2 separate regions of the Homo sapiens genome follow, and region 2 is linked to region 1. Evidence: fine-mapped expression QTL. Tissue or cell type: whole blood. Region 1 holds a variant in brackets; the other region holds the start of a gene. All regions are shown on one strand. Distances are from middle to middle.

What was found. PIP is the estimated chance that this variant, and not a neighbour inherited with it, causes the effect.
Region 2: it holds the start of ALDH9A1, and the variant in region 1 is fine-mapped to the expression of ALDH9A1 in whole blood (TOPMed, PIP above 0.99).

The regions. Positions count from the first base shown.
Region 1 is chr1:165,603,979-165,611,806 of GRCh38, reverse strand. No RefSeq gene overlaps it. Among named protein-coding and RNA genes, the nearest start is that of MGST3, 23 kb to the left of the region's middle. The variant T/G (reference allele first, on the strand shown) is at 3,223.
Region 2 is chr1:165,694,140-165,701,967 of GRCh38, reverse strand. ALDH9A1 (aldehyde dehydrogenase 9 family member A1) reads left to right here and starts at 3,406. Exons shown (of 11, transcript NM_000696.4): 1 at 3,406-3,590; 2 at 6,571-6,716. The coding sequence starts at 3,410. It also overlaps the pseudogene CA14P1. RefSeq lists enhancers at 2,971-3,150, 3,015-3,597, 3,441-3,670 and a silencer at 3,221-3,410.

The DNA of each region.
Region 1 (7,828 bases):
TTCTCCTTTCCATTTCTCTACATTTTTCAACTATGTTTTTACTTTTACATTATCAAGGTTGATAACATCTGTTCTCTGTTCTAAGAACACAGTTAACACTCCAAAGATTTGTTCAGTTATGAGGGTCAGAAGAAGGTGATGCTGTCATAGGGCCAGAGGTAGCACCCACACCGCCTTCAAGGGGCTTACAGTTTAGGAGAGGAGAAAGACATGTAAACAAATAACAGGCTGGGTGCCATGGCTCATGCCTGTAGTCCCAGCACTTTGGGAGGCTGAGGCGGGAGGATTGTTTGAGCCCAGGGGTTCGAGACCAGCCTGAGTAACATGGTGAAACCCCCTCTCTACAAAAAAAATAAAATAATAATGATAATAAAAAATAAAAAAAATTAGTTGGGTGGTGTGACGGGCATAGTCCCAGTTACCCGGGAGGGAGGCTGAGGCAGGAGAATCATCTGAGCCCAGAAGGTCGAGGATGCAATGAGCCAAGATTGGACCACTGCACTCTAGCCTGGGCAACAGAGCAAGACCCTGTCTCAAAAACAAAAAACAAGCAAACCAAGAAAACCACATACACAAAACAAATAAGGGCAATACAAGTATTAAATGTTCTATAAAGATGCTTTTAGAGTGCAGTGGGACTCCAAGCACTCTAGCAGCTCCCTCCTAATCTATGCATCTCCAACTCTCTCTCTAAAATTTTCATCCTTCAGGTGGTGAAAGTGCAAAGGTTGCAAAACCAGTTTTCAGGAACCTTGTTTCCAGGCTCTGCTTCAAATTACGGTGGTGGTTGGCACTTAGAATTTGTCATCTGAACAAAACAAAACAAAAACCAACCAAACAAAAAACTAGTAATGTTTATTGTCTCTGGAGAGGAAACTGAGTGGTGCAAAGACAGGAGTGAAAGAGGAAGCTTCCCACTTTTGTATGTCTTGAATTCTAAGCCTCTATTACCTCCCATAAATATAAATTTAAAAATATAGCCAAGAATTACCAAAAACATTTTCTGACATGTCAGTTTGAGGACTTCAGAACGACAGCACCAAGGGAGAGCTGAATTAAAAAAGAGTCTGGGTGCCTTGCAGGACTCCCGAGGAAAACACGCATCTTCCGGTACAAACACGTCCTGAGGTGAAAAGCCAGCTAGATGAAAGGAGCTCACACTATTTTCACGTGTATATTGAAGGTCCACGGGACGCCCCTTCTAAGAACAGACTTTAAAATTTGAAACTCTTCTCACCCAGCGACAGTATCTAGTTTTCATAACTAACATTTTTTACACCAGAGGTTGCAATGTAGACAAGCTGGGAAAGGTACAACTGGCTGTGTTTCAAGAAGAGCGGTCTGCAGTGTGGCAGGTCCACCCTGCTCTGAAGGCAATCCAGGCTGTTTCTTGCTCCAGGTCCCAACTTCGCAGTCATATATGTAATCAAGACTAATGAAGCTCAATTCGTGAAATCAGTGAGGGCTATGTTTTCCAAATGGAGGGCGGGCATTGTATCACAGTAAGAAATTGATTTCACGTTGCAAGCCAGTATATACATTCATAAAAACTCACACATTCATATATACATTGGAAATAATACTTCCTTTAAATAATAATTACTTAAAATAATAATACTTCCATTTTTCCAAAAAATAATACTTTCTTTAATCACATGAGATGGACTCAATTTTCTTTATTTTTTACTGTTATTATATATATATATATATATTTTTTTTCCTTTTCTTTTTTTTTTTTTTTGAGACAGGGTCTCATGCCATCACCCAGGCTGGAATGCAGTGGTGTGATCTTGGTTCACTGTAACCTCGACCTCCCAGGATCAAGGAATCCTCCCACCTCAGCTTCCCAAATAGCTGGGACTACAGAAAGGCACCATCACGCCTTGCTAATTTTGATATGGGGTCTCAAACTTCTGGGTGCCAGGGATCTGCCTCTCTCGGCCTCCCAAAGTGCTGGGATTACAGGCATAAACCTGGCCATATTTTTATATTTTTATGTTTATTTTTATTTTTTGAGACAGGATCTCAATCTTGTCCAGGTTGGAGTGCAATGGTGCAAACACGGCTCACTGCAGCCTTGACCTCTTGGGCTCAAGCAATCCTCCCACCTCAGCCTCCCTAGTAGCTGGAACTACAGGCGTGATTATTTTTTATTTTTTGAGACAGGGTCTTGCTCTGTTGCCCAGACTGGAGTGCAGTGGTGCATTCTTGGCTCACTGCAGACTCGACCTCCTTGGACTCAGGTGATCCTCCCACCTCAGCCTCCTGAGTAGGTGGGACTACAGGTGTGCACCACCACACCCAGCTAATTTTGTTTTATTTACTTTTTTATAGAGAGGAGGTCTCATTATGTTGCCCAGGGTGGTCTCAAACTCCTGGGCTCAAGCGATCCTCCCAACTCAGCGTCCTGAAGTGCTGGCTTGGGCCACAATGCCTGCCTGGCTCTCAATTTTCTCTTCAGTTCTTTCTGACTTGATTTTTTTTCAGCTTTATGAACTGGAAGGGTCGGATTGACAATTTAAAATTGCATATATTTAGGCTGTATGATGTGATGTTGTATGTATGTATGTATTGTGAAATGACTCCCACAATCAAGCCGATTAACATATCCCTCTCCTCACACAGTTACCATTTCTTTTTTGTGGTGAGGACACTTGAGATATACTCACCTAGCACAGTTCAAGTATGCAATACATTGTTATTAACTATAGTCACTACGCTATTCATTGAGTCTCCAGTACTTATTCATCGTATTTGATTTTATTTTTTGAAACAGGATCTCACTCTGTCACACAGGCAGGCGTGCAACCTCTCACTACAACCTCTCCTTCCTGGGCTCAACCAATCTTCCAGCCTCAGCCTCTCGAGTAGCTAGGAGTATAGGCATAAACCACTAGGCCTGGATAATTTTTATATTTTTTGTAGAGATGGGGTTTTGCTATGTTGCCCAGGCTGGTCTTGAACTCCTGAACTCAAAGCGATCTGTCCACCTCAGCCTCCTAAGCTGCCTATTTGATATTTTTTAATGCTGATAACAACCCACCAAATTTATTTTAGACCCATAGTTTGGAAAATCCTGAGCTAGACTACAAACATGTATACTGAGTCATGATATAAGAGGCATATTTTACAATGATCACTTTAAATTAAATTTGAAAAACAAATTACTAGGCCATATTATAAACGTTGAAATTTGCTTGTGTTGTCATTGTTAAAATCTCT[T/G]CTGTCAAGATCTCTTCTGGCTGGGCATAGTGGCTCATGCCTGTAATCTCAGCACTTTGGGAGGCCTAGATGGGTGGATCACCTGAAGGTCAGGAGTTCGAGACCAGCCTGGCCAACATGATGAAGCCCCATCTCTACTAAAAATATAAATTAGCTGGGTGTGGTGGCGGGTGCCTGTAATCCCAGCTACTCTACTAAAAATATAAAAAATTAGTCTGGGATGGTGGCAGGTGCCTGTAATCCCAGCTACTTGGGAGGCTGAGGCAAGAGAATCACTTGAACCCGGGAGGCAGAGGTTGCAGTGAGTTAAGATCGTGCCATTGGACTCCAGCCTGGGCAACAAGAGCAAAACTCCTTCTAAAAAAAAAAAAAAAAAATCCCTTCTATTTTTTTTGGGGGGGATTTGCATTCAAGGGACTCAGTTTTAGAAATATTACAAAATAAAAACCCAGACTCTTCCAGTCCTTTAGTAATTCTTGTAATGCACTAGGCTTCTTTGCTTTTTAAAAATGCTTTATCACTCCAGGGTGCATCCCTAAACACTATAGTTAAGTTTTATCAGTTTAAAAAATGATGTCTTTTAAATCTCTTTTAATCTATAATTCGCCATATTCTTCTTTCACCTTGCACTTTATTTGTTGAATAAACTAAATTGCTTCATTAATAGATTCCTACAGTATGAATTTTGTTAATTACATTGTATGGTGTAGTTTAGCATGTTCCCTCTCACTTGTATTTTCTGTAAATTAGTAGTTGGATTTAGAGATTTGATTAGATAGGTTTGATTTTTTTTGGCAAGACTACTTTGGAGATGATACTGTGTTGTGTCCTTTTACCAAATAGCACATAATGTCATGTATGTGTGTGTGATGTGTGTGTGTGGGTATGTGTGTGTGTGTGTGTGTGTATGTTAGCAGCCATTGATGCTAATTGCCTAGTTCTATTAACATATTAAGGGTTTCAAATGATATTTGAATTCAATCACTGTTTCTTAATTTATTAGCTTTAATGTCTATTAAAAGACCCCTCCCCTGACTATTTGGCTACCTAATAATTCAGTTCATATACGAAAGGCAGAACAAGTGTCTGATTCTTTCCCTTTATTTAAAAGTTCTCAAAATAGTTAAGTTGCTTCCTAATCATACTCCACAGGTGATCAAATAGAGTTTTTTAAAAAGGTAACATTTTAAACCCATGGATTCAAACATAATTTGGTGCATTTCAAATGATTTCAGTTTTTATTCTTCTTGATGCTTGTGCTCCAATTATTCTGTCTTTGCTAATAAGTGACTCCTGAATTCCTTTAACATGGCCCTAATTGTGGGTGAAGGATTACCCAGGTGCCGAGGCAGGAGACCAAAGGCACAAGCTGTAGCAGTATAATAAAGAAAATAGTTGGAATAAAAAAATACAAATTAGATATAGAGATGATCGTGGACAATTATCAATCATTGGTATAAATGTTATTAATCATTAGCTTTTAATATTACTCTTTGTTGCATTACTAATATAACCTAGGAATAACCGGCAGGTATAGGGTCAGGTACTGAAGGGACATTGTGAGAAGTGACCTAGAAGGCAAGAGGTGAGCCCTCTGTCACGCCCGCATAAGGGCTGCTTGAGGGCTCCTTGGTCAAGCGGTAATGCCAGTGCCTGGGAAGGCGCCCGTTACTTAGCAGACCGCGAAAGGGAATCTCCCTTTCCTTGGAGGAGTCAGGGAACACTCTGCTCCACCAGCTTCTTGTGGGAGGCTGGATATTATCCAGGCCTGCCCACAGTCATCCGGAGGACTAAACCCCTCCCTGTGGTGCTGTGCTTCAATGGTCACGCTTCTTGTCCGCTTTCATGTTCCTCCCATACTCCTGGTTCCTCTTTGAAGTTCATAGTAGATAGCGGTAGAAGAAATAGTGAAAGTCTTAAAGTCTTTGATCTTTCTTATAAGTGCATGGAAGAAAACGCTGACATATACTGCCTTCCCTCTTTGCTTCGGCTACCTAAAAGGGAAGGGCCACTACCGGTCTCTGTGTCTTGGTGGTAGTGGTCCCCCGGGCCCAGCTGTTTTCTCTTTATCTCTTTGTCTTGTGTCTTTATTTCTTACAATCTCTCATCTTTGCACACGGGGAGAACACCTGCTAAGCCCTGTAGGGCTGGACCCTACACCTAATGATCATGTGTAGCTTCCTTCCTTCCTTTCTATTATAAGATGTTCCAGACTCATCTTGTACATTTCCTGCCCTAGATCTAGAATCAGCCATGATTTCTTTTAATGGAAAATAGATTTCAGATTCACAATATTGGCTCTAGAGATATTCATTGATACTAGGTTGATCATTATTTCTTGGCTTTTCAGTGGACAGAGCAAGGGAATTTTTAAAAGATAAAATACCTTACAAGTTAATATTGATACTTCTCTATTTCAAATTCAGCAACACAAGGTTTTAACTTAACTTCTTCTAATACTTTATCATTGTTCTTCCTTATTGATAATTGCCTTAACTTGCCATGATCAGTGGTCCTTTAGGGCTATAGATAGTTGGGTGAGGGTAGGACTGACTGATCCTGATGGAGCGAAGACACTGGAGGTACTCTTTGGGAAAAGCTCAGTTCCAATAGGGTAAGATATTATGGTTAGTAAGTTAGGCCTGAGCTTCTTCAAGTTATCACTGTACTAGAATTTAGACCATGTTAGTAAACTAAACCTAGGACAGGGTCAATAGTTGGGGTTCAAGAACAGGTATAGGGCTGCAACCAGTAAGCAACCAGTAACCAACAAGAACCAGGAAGGCACAGTCTGCCAGAGAGTCCAGGACAGTGGTTGGCAGAGGCTGAACAGGCAGAATGGAACATGGAAATCAATGAAATTCCCAAGGAGGCATAGCATCTTTAAACAACTTACCTAAAGAGTGAAGGTAGGGAGGGGTTTGGAGTCTTGCCAAGAAGTCATGGCTGCTGGTGGTGGTGGGCAGAGTTCAGGAACTTAAATCAAGACCTACTAGAGAAAACCAAATGGCTCACACAAATGTATGGTTGATCTAGGAGATGCTGGGGGTACCCACCCACATCTCAGCTGCAACCATTACCATGGATTACAATTTCCAGCTGTCAGCAGCTGCTATTCTTTGCCTGAGGGCACTCTCTGACTGCTGAAACCACTCTACCTGGGCATGCTGTAGATAGTGAATAACCTGAGGCTCCTCCACACCCCGCAGCTGCCTCCCAGATTGTATTTTCCAACCGGGTTTGGGTTCCTCTCTCTCCTTGTGCCACAGGCCCACGTATTTTCCAACCGGGTTTGGGTTCCTATCTCTCCTTGTGCCACAGGCCCACATGGACACTATATTCTAGTCAGTAGGATGTAGTTCCTCCAGCGGGTCATTCTGTTTCACATCTTTGTACCTTTGTACATGCTGTTCCCTCTGCTTCAATTCTCTTCTCCCATGCCAATCTTCTCCAACAATTCCTCTCATTCTTTAAAAATGTCTAAATGACCATCTCTTTGAAGCTTTCTTTCCTAGTTTCAGGGGTCTTTTTCTTATGTTCTTATAGCCCTAGGACATAATAAATATCCATTGAGTATTTGAATTAAGTATGGGCAACAGCAAGTAAGGATCCCAGGCACCAAAGCTCACACAGTTTCAATTCTGAGTGTCCTTCTGCCTCCATCAGCAAATTTCTTCCAGGAAGGATCCAATCTTAATAAGTTCCAAGCCAGCAAGTAGACACAGGGAAGCAGATACAATCTGGTTGGAGGCAATAGGAAAGGGCAGAAATATGAGACATGTCTTAATAACTCTCCCTATATTAGTTTTCTGGAATTACATAGCAAAGTACACCAGCTGGGTGGCTTAAACAACAGAAATTAATTTTCTCATAATTCTGGAGGCTGAAGTCTGAGATTAAGGTGTTGGCAGGGTTGGTTTCTTTGAAGACCGCTTTTTTTTTGGCTTGTAGATGGCCATTCTCTTCTGGTATCTTTACATGATCTACCTTTGGTATATCTGTGTCCTAATCTCTTCTCCTTAAAAGACACCAGTCATATTGGATTAGGGCCCATCCATATGACCTCATTTTACCTTAACTATCTTTTAAAGGCCCTCATTCCAAATACAATCACATTCTGAGGTTAGGACTTCAGCACATGAATTTTGTGGAGACACAATTCATTCCATAATACTCCCCCAATATAGAGAACCCATGTTCCTAACATTAAGTCCTGAAAAAACAACAGAGGTATCAATCCTGAGAGAGAGTTTCCAGGCTCTGGAGTCCTTAACTTGAGTCATGGGCTTTGTTTTTTAAACCTGTCTCTCTGTTTAAGGCCAGTACTAGAGGGCTAATAGGTTAAAGTCACAAAATGATTCTATTCCTTCATAGCTGTTATGATATCCCATAGCTAGTCTAGAGACCAAACTCCATCTAGGAAGTTCCTAGGACTGAGGGATGTTGTTGAGGTTGATTATTGGGAGATGAAGAAAATAACTGCAGTGAATTTCCAAAGATTATGCAGTGTCTCTTCCAGATTCGGAGTGACCAGGCACAGGCATCAGGGTTTGCAGAAAGAGCTGACTCAAGTAATCATTAACTTCTACCCAGAGCATCCTGGACA
Region 2 (7,828 bases), 90 kb before region 1:
CTCCTGAGCTCAGGCAATCCACCCACCTCCGCCTCCCAAAGTGCTGGGATTACAGGTGTGAGCCACCGCATCCGGCATTTGCTTTTACTCTGGAGGTTGTGTCCAAGAAGAGTACTGCTAATGGTGAAACTAAGCCAAAGCAACAAATTGACAACTGGATGACCTGAGGGAGAGGCCAGTGAAGGACCCTGGATCACACAGTATGGGTTCCCAAGGACTTCTTCCTTTAGGAGACCTGGAGGTGGCAGAAGGGGATCCAGTTGCTTTTCTTTTCCTCCTCTGGTTGTCTGGGGAAGGAAATGTGGAAAAGGAGGGGGCTTTAGTGGCACCCAAGTTTGGCTTTAAGCAAGTTGTGAGGCAGGCAGTTTCTCCTTGGATCTTCTACCCCTTTAGCAATGATTCCACTCCTTTTCTATCTCTTTTTACCCCCAAATCTGCCCTCCAACACACACCCATCTAAGAGGTGTTTCTCTTTTGGCATTCCTTCTGCTCCTTGTGGCATCTTTGTCCCTTTGAATTTCACCCTGAACTTGTAAACTGGCCAGCATCCTCTGTGACTTCTGGGCTGCTTACTGGGTAGTGCTGACAAATATCCTAAGAAGTTTACATGTCCTTTAAATCTCCCTAGAACCAGATTTCTGGGTTTCTGATAAATATCCACCAACATAAGAGTGAATTTTGATAGCAACCTTCATGGGGTCAACATCTCGACCTGGTGTAGTAAGAAGAAATTTACTTTGGACTTGCACAGAGCTGGACTCCAGCCTTAGCTCCTTTATGGGGAAGCTCTACGACCTTTCTATTAGTTTCCTCATCTGTACAATGGGGATGATAAAACCTATCTTGCATGATTGTCACTGAGATATTTGACAAAGTGCCACATACTACCTCCTAGCTCAATCTCTGTTAGTTTCCTTTTCTTTTGTAGGGTTATTATGAGCTTCATGTGAGAAAGTAAATGTGAAAGGGCTCTGTAACCTATAAAGCTCTTTCTACATGTTGGATTTTGCTAATGAAAAATAATACATTAATAATCTAATAATAAGGGTGGAAGGAGGGAGAGGATCAGGAAAAATAACTCATGGGTACTAGGCTTAATACCTGGGTAATGAAATAATCTATACAACACACCCCCATGACACAAGTTTACCTATGTAACAAATCTTTACATGTACCCCTGAACCTAAAAGTTAAAAATAATAATTTAATAATAAAAGCACAGATAGGTAAGAGGAACAGCTAGATATTTAAAAGGTAGATATTTTGGAGGAGATCTGTTTTCTTTGGGGAAGGGTCTTACTCTGTTGCCCAGGCTGGAGCAGTGGTGCCATGATCGCTCACTCCAGTCTTGAACTCCTGGCCTCAAGCAATCCTCCACCTCAGTCTCTTGAGTAGTCAGGACTACACGCTTGTGCCACCATGCTCGGCTAATTTTTAAAAATATTTTGTAGAGACAGAGTCTCACTATGTTGCCCAGGCTGGTCTTGAACTCCTGGCCTCAAGCGATCCTCCTGCCACGGTCTCCCAAAGTGTTGAGATTACAGGTGTGAGTCCTGTGCCTGGCCAGAGGTTTGTCAGTCTTATCATCTATGAATTAATTCAATAGACATCACGACCACATTTCCAAAACAAACATCAGGAATTATGATGTGACAAGTCAAAATGCATTGGTTGGGGACAGAATCTTTTAAATAGAAATTGTCCCATAAAATTTGAGACGTATAGTTTCTGTACCTAAATGACCATTCAGTGATCTTGGAAATCTATAGTGCTGCTCGTCACCAACTCCTGATATGTTTCAATTCTGTTTGCAATGGACAATAATAAAATAATATGTGAGTGTGGCCTCAGGTATTCTGAGTTTGGGCACTGCTGTTTCCATCTGAGGACCAAGACCTACACATCTCAGTAGCACTGAAAAAGTGAACAAACTGGTATAGAGTGCCAGAAAACTTGATCAGAATACATTATATATACTCTAAACCTGAAAACCACACTCCCTAATATTGCGCTGGTGAGCTGGCAGGTAAAGGAAAAAACATTGAGAAAGACAGCAGCCCCCAGAAGAGAAACAATCCTAAAAGAAATGTCCAAATTGCCAATTACTTTCTGTTTGTCAAAGTCTCTACTGGAGGTGCATGGAAGTTTGGTGAGAAGAATGAACCTTTGTGCAAGATCCCTCAGCTGACAGACCTGTGAGTGCCTCTGGGTGGCTGCTTTGTCTTACAGAAGGCATTTTGTTTCCTGACACTTTTTCCTGTGGCCTTTGCTCTTCGTATTCTGTATGTTAGGCTTCTGTTTCTATCAATATTTGTCATTAATAGCATTTACATTGCTCCTTCAGAATTTATTTATTTTGAGACAGGGTCTCGCTCTGTTGCCCAGGCCTGAGTGCAGTGGCACGATTATAGCTCACTGCAAGCTTGGACCCCCGGGGCTCAGGGGATCCTCCCACCTTAGCCGCCCAAGTACCTGGGGCCACAGGCGTGTGCCACCACACCTGGATAATTTTTTTTTTTTCTGAGTTTCACTCTTGTCACCCAGACTGGAGTGCAATGGCATAGTCTCGGCTCACTGCAACCCGTCTCCCGGGTTCAAGCGATTTTCCCACCTCAGCCTCCCAAGTAGCTGGGATTACAGGCGCCCGCCACCACACCCAGCTAATTTTTGTATTTTTAGTAGAGACGGGGTTTTACCATTTTGGTCAGGCTGGTCTCGAACTCCTGACCTCAGGTGATCTGCCCGCCTTGGCCTCCCAAAGTGCTAGGATTACAGGCGTGAGCCACCGCGCCCGGCCCAATTTTTATTATTTTTATTTTATTTTTTTATAGACACGGGATCTCTCTCTGTTGCCCGCAAACTCCTGGGCTCAAGCGATCCTCCAGCCTTGGTGAGAGCCACAGCGCCCAGTCTCTCTTTAAGAATTTAAAAAGCAGTTTCAGATCACAATATCATCTATCTCGTTCACAGTCCCCTTGCTTTTTACTGTCACCCTTTAAAAAGCATTATACAATTACAGAAACGGTGGTTTAGCAGTGAAGTAACCACCAAAGACTCTTGGCACTCCAATCCTCTGCCTTCTTCAGGCGATAGGATTAAGAATGGGATCCTAGGATGCTTACATGCAATGATGAACCCGAAAACACTTGCAAAGTGCTACGCAAATATTGATCACGAAGAAGGAAGTCCTCTTCCCGCCTGGAGACTGTGTGGGGTATGGCGGGGTGGTGGGGAGAATGTGGTGTCTTGCTCCACCCTCCTGGCGAGGGGAGGGCCTGGCCTGGACCGCAGAGGAATCGAGTGACTGCCCCTAAAATCTCCTAGAACCGATCCCGCGGCCCCGCCCCTCCCGCGGCCCCGCCCCTCCCGCGGCCCGTCAGCCTCTGCCGCGGAGCTGCGTCCGCCACTCATGTTTCTCCGAGCAGGCCTGGCCGCGCTCTCCCCGCTTCTTCGCAGTCTTCGGCCCTCTCCTGTCGCCGCCATGAGCACTGGCACCTTCGTCGTGTCGCAGCCGCTCAATTACCGCGGCGGGGCCCGCGTGGAGCCGGCGGACGCCTCCGGTACCGAGAAAGCTTTCGAGCCAGCAACCGGTAACTGCAACGAGCCGGGGAGGCTGGGGCGCCCTGGGGCCGGATGCGCGGATTTCCCGGCCAGCCCCCGTTTCCTGTGTTCTGCAGCGTTGACTTGAGCACAAGACAGTGACAGTGGAGAGTCTAAGGTTGTGTGTGTAGGCAACTAGCGATTCTGGGGCAACGCGAGTGCCTCCGGGCAGGGATGGGTAGGGAGGAAAAGCAAAGCTGATGAGTTGCGTGGTAGGATCGTGAGTTGTTTTACCCGGGCCAGAACAGAGTTCGCAAAGTACTGGTGGGGGAAGTCGTGCCTCTGTTAACTTCCTTTTTTGTTTGTTTTGTTTGTTTGTTTGTTTTTTGTTTGTTTTGAGACAGGGTCTCACTCTGTCGCCCAGGCTGGAGTGCAGGGGCACCATCTCAGAGCTCACTGCGCCCTCTACCTTACGGGCTCAAGTGCTTCTCCCGCCTCAGCCTCCCTGGTAGCTGGGATTACAGGCTCCCACCACCATGTCCGGCTAATTTTTGTATTTTTAGTAGAGACGGGTTTTCAGCATGTTACTCAGGCTGGTCTCGAACTCCTGAGCTTAGGTGATCCTCCCGCCTCAGCCTCCCAAAGTGCTGGGATTACAGCCGTGAGCCACCAAGCCCAGCCAACTGTTCCCCCTTTTAAAACCAGGACTGATGTATTATTGTCTTCAAATGTGTGCATAGGAGAGGAATTCTAAAAGAACGGGGCGGGGTTGTGGGGAAGATAATCATTTGTGCTGGGAATGAAGGAACGCTCACAGATAGTTTCTAATGACTACGAATGAGGACTTTGTCTCCACATTCTAATATTAAAATATTTCTGCACATTAATCAGAATTGGGAAAGGAAAAAACCCCACCTTTATTCAGTACTTTCTTCCCCAGCTTTATTGAAGTATAATTAACAAATAAAAATTGTATATACTTAAGGTGTAAAACGTGTTGTAATGTATGTATACCTTGCAAAATGGTTACCACGGTCAATCTAATTATCCATTGCTTCTGCATAGTTAATGGCTTTTTTTGGATAGTGAAATATTTAAGATCTATTCTTTTAGCAAATTTCAAGTATATGATGCAGTATTGGTAACCATAGTCACCATGGTCTACGTGAGCTCTCCACAATTTATTCATCTTGCTGAAATAAAACTTTTTAATCCAGTGCTTAATGTGTGCTAAGCACTGTGCTAGGCACTGGATTTACTCTGGGAACTCTGAAGGTCACAGAGATAAGGAAGAAGGGGCTTTTTGTTTTGGTTTTGTGTTGTGTTTATTTTGCTGGGTTTTATGGAATATATGTGGGGAGAAAAATGTAAATATTTTGTGTAAAATGTAGCCAGAGCAATAAAACTGATTTGCAGGGGACTGGAGAATTTAGTATTTGACCATCCACACTAAACCACAGAGCAGTGACTTGGCAGAGCCAGAAGGCATTATCACATCTCTTCTTTATATAGGAGGAAACAGCTTCTCTACCCCGACTTAATCCTGATACAAAAGAAAGAAAAATTGCTCTTTGCTTTAATTGCCTACAGTGTGTGTGATCCTCAGCCACCGCCTTTACCAGCTGGCTATTCAAGTTTGTAACAGAAATTGCAGATTTGTGAAATCTCCCTGGAAAGAGTCCCAGGAGTTCTTGTGAAGAGGATTTGCTGAGTTGGCAAACTTAAAGAATTCTTGTTGGTAGAGGCAGTACAGTCCTTGGGCTATGGGCCTAGAAAAACTGATTGTTTCATAATTTGCACCAGAATAGGGAGAGGGAATAAAGGTGGAATAAGAAAAGGAAATCTGGGAATTTTTGAGAAAAAAAAAATGTTCCTTTAGGGTTGCCTTATCCTGATATTACTGCTTATTAACTATATTTATCAAGTATCAAGTAGTATGATATAACCTACATAGAATATAGACAAGGGATTTACAGTCAGAGTTTATAACCCAATAGACTGATTACTTTTGACTTTCATTTTACAAGACCCCTGAGATTCTGAGATAATGTTTAGGAGTGTTGCAAAACTTAATCAGAAGTTAATGTTAGTAAACTCAACTGTAAAATAGTAGAGGGCAGGGGTTCTTAACTCTAAATCCTTGATGAGTTTAGGGCAGGGGACATGACATTCCTGTAATTCTGTTATATGTTTAAGTAGATTTTTCTGGAGAGAGGTCTGCAACTTTTATCAGACTCCTAATGTCAATGACCGCAAAATACAGTTAAGAACTGCTAGGCCGGGTGTGGTGGCTCATGGCTGTAATCCCAGCACTTGGGGAGGCAGAGGTGGGTGAATCACTTGAGGTCAGGAATGTAAGACCAGCCTGGCCAACATGATGAAATCCCGTCTCTACTAAAAATACAAAAATTAGCTGTGTGTGGTGGCAGGCGCCTGTAATCCCAGCTACTCGGGAGGCTGAGGCAGGAGAATTGCTGGAACCCAGGAGGCAAAAGTTGCAGTGAGTCAAGATCGTGCCATTGCACTCCAGCCTGGGTAACAAGAGCGAGACTCCGTCTTAAAAAACAAAAAAACAAAACAAAAAAACCTGCTAGTATAGAGATGGTCACTAAATCAAACCATACATAAAAACAAGAAGTTACGGTAGCCCACGCCTGTAATTCCGGCACTTCGGGAGGCTGAGGCGGGTGGGTCACAAGGTCAGGAGATCAAGACCATCCTGGTCAACATGGTGAAACCCGGTCTCTACTAAAAAATACAAAAAATTAGCTGGGCGTAGTGGCGTGCACTGGTAGTCCCAGCTACTCAGGAGGCTGAGGCAGGGGAATCGCTTGAACTCAGGAGGCAGAGGTTGCAGTGAGCCGAGATCGCGCCACTGCACTCCAGCCTGGGTGACAGAGCAAGACTCCATCTCAAGAAAAAAAAAAAAAAAAAAAAAAAGACTACTACTAAGAGAATATTGATAGATAATATTTTATTTAAATATGTGGCAACAATTTGAGTTAAAACTGATGTTTCCGCTCTTTATAGGCCGAGTGATAGCTACTTTCACATGTTCAGGAGAAAAGGAAGTAAATTTGGCTGTTCAAAATGCAAAGGCTGCTTTTAAAATATGGAGTCAAAAATCTGGCATGGAGCGTTGCCGAATCCTTTTGGAGGCTGCCAGGATAATAAGGGTATGTTCCAATTTATTTCCTTCCAGAACTCAGACATTGCTCTGAGGTTTCTTTGTGATGTTTGCAGTTCGACTTTGTTGCAACATTAGGCCGTAACGTTTTTATAAAATGGAAAAACATTTCCACATGCTCACCTTAGTATATAAAACAAGTTTTTGTTCAATACTTCCCATCTGGATGTTGGCTCTTGGACATCTCCTTTGGCAGGTTTTCATGTTTGTAAAGCTTTGTTTTGAATTATAATGCACTCTTTATAGCTCATCGTCCTTTTTTTATTTTTATTTTTTTTTTTTTTTGAGACGGAATCTTGCTCTGTCGCCCAGGCTGGAGTGCAGTGGAGTGATCTCGGCTCACTGCAACCTTCGCCTCCCGGGCTCAAGCAATTCTCCTGCCTCAGCTTCCCAAGTAGCTGGGACTACAGGTGTGTGCCACCATGCCTGGCTAATTTTTGTATTTTTCGTAGAGATGGATTTCACCATGTTGGCCAGGCTGGTCTTGAACTCCTGACCTCAAGTGATCCACCCACATCGGCCTCACAAAATGCTGGGATTACAGGCGTGAGCCACTGTGCCCAGCCTTTCTTTCTTTTTAAACCATGTGGTTTACTTGTTTCCTTTTTATTCTTTATTTTGATGATTCTCAAGTCTACCTTTCTTTTTCAGATTTGTTTTCAGATAGGGTTTTAAGTATCGTTACTTTAATTGGGAAGATTTCATAGATTTGTAGATGTTCCCTTTAAAAAAAAGAGAGTTAAACTTTTTTTTTACATCATAAATATATACAATTTTTATTTGTCAACTAAAAAAAATTGTAAAAACAAGTATTTAATACTCATCGCAAAACATAAAAAGCCTGCAATGCAAAGGGTTTCTGTGGTGTAGTAGTTACCACGCTGGCCTAACACACGGAAGGTCCTCTGTTTGAAACTTGACGGAAACAAAAGGTTTCTTTTGTTTCCCAGAATCTGACCAGGCTGCCTCTTCCTGGGAGTCCAGAGCTGCGAGGAACAAGTGATAATCCTGCCTCCTTTTTTTTTTTTTTTTATACTTAAGTTCTAGGGTACATGTACACAATGTGCAGGTTTGATACATAGGTATACAAGTGCCATGTTG